2 separate regions of the Homo sapiens genome follow, and region 2 is linked to region 1. Evidence: fine-mapped expression QTL. A gene starts in region 1. The other region holds a variant in brackets. All regions are shown on one strand. Distances are from middle to middle. Region 1 holds the start of RPS13 (ribosomal protein S13). Region 2 overlaps PIK3C2A (phosphatidylinositol-4-phosphate 3-kinase catalytic subunit type 2 alpha).

Region 1 (2,918 bases):
TACTAAAAATACAAAAATTAGCCGGGCGTGGTGGTGCGGCCTGTAGTCTCAGCTACTCCAGAGGCAGAGGCAGGAGAATTGCTTGCTTGAACCCAGGAGGCGGAGGTTGCAGTGAGCCGAGATCATACCACTGCACTCCAGCCTGGGTGACAAAGTGAGAATCGGTCTCAAACAAAAACACACAAATTAGCTGGGCCTGCTGGCGGGCGCCTGTAATCCCACCTATTCGGGAGGCTGAGGCAGGAGAATCGCTTGAATCCAGGAGGTGGAGGTTGCAGTGAGCTGAGATCGCGCCACTGCACTCCAGACTGGGCGACAAGAGCAAGACTGTCTCAAAAAAAAAAAAAAAAAGAGGTGGGGTCTCTCTGTCACCCAGGAGTGCAGTGGCTTCATCATAGCTCACTGCAGCCTGGGACTTCTAGGCTCTGGTGATCCTCTCACCTCTGCATCCCAAGTATCTGGGACTACAGGCACATTGCGGCTGGCTTTTTTGGGCGGGGGAGTCGGAGAGTAGTATGTTCTCAGGCCCCAGAACCATGTTCAGCACATAGAAGGTAAACATTTGCTGAATGAAGCCACTTGCACGAAGTCACACGCAGCTGAGATTCAAACCACACCTAACTGTGAGGAACTGTGTCAGGCACTCTGCTTAGCCAATTCCAACTCCTCCACTTGACAGCTGTGTGATTTGGGGCTGGTTAGTATCCAGCGGCAGTGTGCCTCTGCTTCCTCAACTGTAAACTGGGGTGAAAGCCATGAAGATTTATTTCAAAGTATTGTGGTCAGAATTAAACGAAATCAGTACATGTGAAGTGCTTACAATGATGCCTCTAGCACGGTGGCGAGACCAGAGTTTTGGCTATTTTTAAAATAACTTTACCACCTACTAGATCCTACAAGTCACACGAGGACAGGCGAAATAGGCTATGTTAGACACAAACACTCACCGATCTGTGAAGGAGTAAGGCCCTTCTTGGCCAGTTTGTAAATCTGCTCCTTCACGTCGTCAGATGTCAACTTCAACCACTGTTATGGAATAGAAAGCAGCCTTAGGATGAGAACCCAGGAATGGCGCCGCAGAACAGCGGTCTCTCCTTCCGCAAAACCGCGCTCCTCATACACGCAAGTTCCTCACCCTGGCGTCGCTTCACCCGAGACAAATGCCAACCCCCTCCCCGGATTCTCCCCGGTCCCAGCGCGCTACTTACAGTGGGGACGCTGCGTCGATAGGGTAAAGCCGACTGGGACAGGCCCTTCCTGGGGAGAGAAGCAGTCTCGAGGTGAGGTGGCGGCTAGTGCCAGAGCAGCCCAGAACATCATCCCCTCGGCCCGCTGCCCACACTCCCTGTCTTCCTCCCACCCCCCGCCCAGCAATCCGGCTTGATGCCCCGAGCTCACCCGGGAGCATGCATGCGACCCATGATGGCGGCGATCAGGCAACGAAAGGAGAGCGAGAGTGGAAACGCCGCAGGAAGCCACCCAACACGCAGGAAGTGACCTCACACGTCCCCGCTTCCTCTCACGCAGGAGGCGGAGCTACGCTGCGCAGCCACCGCCCGTCTGTGTGACTACATCTCCCGAAATGCATTTCAGCGTCGCAAGAGATCGTCAATCCAGCCTCATCCCGGCATGCATCGGTCTTTGGTCAGCCTTGTTGCCAGAGCGGGAATTTGAGGCTGACGCCAGCTTGCGTCGAAATTCCCTGTGGACGCCGAGATCACAAAGATTCGAATGCTGCGCTGGGGGTGGGTATGGAGCAGGTAGGGCTGGAAGAAGCAGCCATACACAGGTGTTTGCTCATTCACCAGTGCCTGGCTTTGTCCTGGCACTAGATCCCTCAGAGTCGGCCCTGCGCCTAATAAATTAACAGATACAATAGCATGTGATGAGGACCACACGGGAAGCCATGGCAGCGGCTACCGCCCAGCCAGCGCTTCCATTTCTCATTTCTAAATCCTACCCTAATCTGTCAGGGGAGAGTCGCTGACGGTGAAGAACCGGTCTAAGGAGTTGAACCAGGTCCCCACGGATGCCTGCCGCCCTCCGCACTCGAATTCCCCTGCGCAGGGCTCTGGGGCGCTGGGCTCGCCGGGGAGAAGGGTTGGGCAGAGGCTTACGGAGCTATGTTCCCAAGTGAGAGAGTTGGCGGGCAGGGAAGAGCCTTGGGAGCAAGACTGCAAAGGCCAAGAGGATGAGGGATAAAATGAAGCATTTGAATTTCATGGGAAAAGGGAACCGTCAAGGAAGAAGCTTTTTTTTTTTTTTGAGACGGAGTTTCGCTCTTGATTCGCAGGCTGGAGTGCAATGGCGCGATCTCGGCTTGCCGCACCCTCCGCCTCCCGGCTTCAAGCGATTCTCCTGCCTCAGCCTCCTGAATAGCTGGGATCACAGGCATGCGCCACCACTTCCAGCTAATTTTGTATTTTTAGTAGAGACGGGTTTTTCCATGTTGGTCAGGCTGGTCTTAAATTCCCGACCTCAGGTGATCCGCCCGCCTCGGCCTCCCAAAGTGCTGGGATTACAGGCGTGAGCCACCGCGCCTGGCCGGAAGAAGCTCTTTTAAGACAGACCTAGCCTGGGCAACATGGCGAAACCCCCTCTCTATAAATACAAAGAATTAGCCGGGCGTGCTCGCTCGTGCCTTTGGTTCCAGCTACGAAGGAGGCTGAGGTGGAGAATCTCTGGAGCCGGGAAGGACATTGCGGTGAGCCGAGATAGCACCACTGCGCGCCAGCCTGGGCAACAGAGCAAGACTCTGTCTTAAAAAAAAAAAAAAAAAAGGAAAGAAAGAAAAAGACTGACTCAGTGCCGGTACACAACAATGCGTTGAAAGAATGGGCAAATGAAGCAGCTTCTTAAAATTTTAAAAAGTAAGCATAGCTCTAGGAAGGAGGGAGGTCAGTGAAATCAAACTCCTG
Region 2 (2,918 bases), 33 kb after region 1:
TCATAAATGGCTGAAGAATTTGGAATTCAGAATCTGAAGCCACACTACTGGTAAGGGTGAAGATGGATTTAACTTAATTATATGATAGTCTCTGAACAGAACTGGAACCAATGGGTAAAAGACACCAGGACTCAGTTCCCATTAATCACCTGAATATGAAAAAGAAATCTATAGCTATCAGAGCTACACAGGATAGAATGAACCGCCTTGAAATGCAGTGAATTCCCCTTCACTACAGGCATTTAAGCATAAATTGAATGGCAAATATTGGAAGGACGATTATCTTTCAGGTGATTTCCTAGTGCCTATGCATAGAATTTGTGAAGTGTTTCTCATTTCCACCAACAGCAGATGATCTTTCGTTTAAAACCTGATGGTATTGCCTTTACAACTTTTAGAGCTTTCAGCTTATTAAAGCATACTCTGATTACTTGTACATATTATTGCTTCCTTCTAAAATATGAGTACCATATATTCTTACCATTTTATAGATGGTAAACAACAAACATTTGTTGAATAAGAATAATGATGGCTGCCATTTATTGAGCACATAATACATATCAGATATTAGGATGTTTTACATCCATTATTTCAAAACAGTTCAATAAATAGTAAGATAGAAATCTGCTATTAGTAGAAAATAACTTTGTATGACTTTATTTTATAAAAATGAAATCAAAGTTGATTTAACTTAGATATGGCCTTATTTATTTATTAGGTTTTGAGACAAGGTCTCACTGTTTTACCTGGGTTGGAGTGCAGTAGCATGATCATGGTTCACTGAAGCCTTAACCTCCTAGGCTCAAGTAATCCTCTCACCCCATCCTCCAGAGCAGCTGAGACTATTTATTCATTTTTGTAGAGACAGGGTCTCCCTGTGTTGCCTGGGCTGGTCTCAAACTCCTAGACTCAAGTGATCCTCCTGCCTTGGCCTCCTAAAATGCTGGGATTACAGGTGAGAGCCACTGCACCCAGAGATATGGCATTATTTTTAAGTTTAAAAGCTAAAGACCATACAGTCCTCACTGGGTCAATTAATGGACACCTCTGATTACTGCAAAGCATTTATTTAGGCTACACTAGGTTAAAAAAATTTTTTTTTAATTTATTTTGAGATAGAGTCTCACTGTGTCACCGAGCCTAGAATACAGTGATGCAATCTCGGCTCACTGCAGCCTCCGCCTCCCAAGTTCAAGCTATTCTCCCATCTCAGCCTCCTAAGCAGCTGGGATTACAGGGGCACGCCACCACACCTGGCTAATTTTTGCATTTTTAGTAGAAACAGGGTTTCACCATGTTGCCCAGGTTGGACTCAAAC[T/A]CCTGACCTCATGTGATCCACCCACCTTGGCCTCCCAAAGTGCTGGGATTACAGGCATGAGCCACTATGCCCGGCCACTAAGTTATTTTTCAAAGAGACTTAATTATGAGCAACTGAATCAATAAAGTAACACTGGATTAAAATAAGAAACAACTGTGATACCAGGGTATCTGCATCAGGATGTTTACGGCAGGTACACTTTAAGCTAAGTTCAAGGAAAAAAATAAGACATCAAGACACAGCTAATAAACTTACCTCGATCTCTGCCAGTTGAGAGACATTTGAAAATTACCATCCTCAGATCTAGTCCTTCTTTAAGCCAGATCTTATCCATAATCTTTATCATCTGTAAAGCTAACATATCTTGCCGAAGATCTTCACCAACCTTGAAATCAAGGAAACAAAATGAAACTTGTACATCTCCAAAAGACTTAACAGATTACATACTATGAAAGCTGTAATCCCAGCACTTTGGGAGGCCAAAGTGGGCAGAACACCTGAGGTCAGGAGTTCGAGATCAGCCTGGCCAACATGGTGGAAACCCCGCCTCTACTAAAAACACAAAAATTAGCTGGGCATGGTTGCACACACCTATAAAATGAACTGCCTTTTTATTTTTCTGCAGCATTCTAGGGAAAGGTACTTAACCTCTTCATATCTCAGTTCCCTGAACTGTACACTTTAAAAGGTTCAGTTTTATGGTATGTGAATTATATTCAATTATTTATTTATTTATTTATTTATTTTTTGAGACTGAGTCTTGCTCTATCACCCAGGCTGGAGTGCAGAGGGGTCATCTCGGCTCACTGCAATCTCCGCCTCCTAGGTTCAACTGATTCTCCTGCCTCAGCCTCCTGAGTAGCTGGGATTATAGGTGCCTGCCACCACACCTGGCTAATTTTTGTATTTTTAGTAGAGATGGGGTTTCACCACGTTGGCCAGGCTGGTCTCGAACTTCTGACCTCAGGTGATCTGCCTGCCTCAGCCTCCCAAAGTGCTGGGATTACAGGCATGAGCCACCATATGTGGCCTATATTCAATTTTCTAAAAAGGCAACATGGAGAATCTGTGGGATGATGAAATGTTCTACATTTTGACTGTATCAATGCCAATATCCTGATTGTGATACTGCACTACAGTTATACAAGATATTACTATGAAGAAGAGTACACAGGATTCCTCTGTACAGTTTGTTACAATTGCCTATGAATCTATAATTATCTCAAAATGAAAAGTTTACTTAAAAAAATTAACCCCCCAAAATGAATTACTTTTTAACTAAAACTTGAATAAGTTTTCATTTTCTTTAAACTGGATAAAATAATTTAAAAACACATAATAAGGAATACATTCTGAGACTAGCCAAGAAAATTATGGAAAAGAATAAGGAGAATTTGCCTTAAAAAATATTAAAACTTGGCTGGGCATGGTGGCTAACGCCTGTAATCCCAGCACTTTGGGAGACCGAGACGGGCAGATCACCTGAAGTTAGGAGTTCGAGACCAGCCTGGCCAACATGGTGAAACCCTGTCTGTACTAAAAATAAAAAAATTAGTTGGACGTGGTGGCACGTGTCTGTAATCCCAGCTACTTGGGAGGC

What was found. PIP is the estimated chance that this variant, and not a neighbour inherited with it, causes the effect. A credible set is the group of variants that fine-mapping cannot tell apart.
Region 2: its variant is the best candidate, but not a certain one, in a credible set for the expression of RPS13 in pancreas (GTEx, PIP 0.71).

What each region holds. Positions count from the first base shown.
Region 1 is chr11:17,076,221-17,079,138 of GRCh38, forward strand. RPS13 (ribosomal protein S13) reads right to left here and starts at 1,447. Exons shown (of 6, transcript NM_001017.3): 1 at 1,399-1,447; 2 at 1,209-1,257; 3 at 948-1,026. The coding sequence starts at 1,421. RefSeq lists an enhancer at 1,481-1,680.
Region 2 is chr11:17,108,859-17,111,776 of GRCh38, forward strand. PIK3C2A (phosphatidylinositol-4-phosphate 3-kinase catalytic subunit type 2 alpha) reads right to left here. Exons shown (of 33, transcript NM_002645.4): 22 at 1,574-1,703. Among named protein-coding and RNA genes, the nearest start is that of RPS13, 33 kb to the left of the region's middle. The variant T/A (reference allele first, on the strand shown) is at 1,319.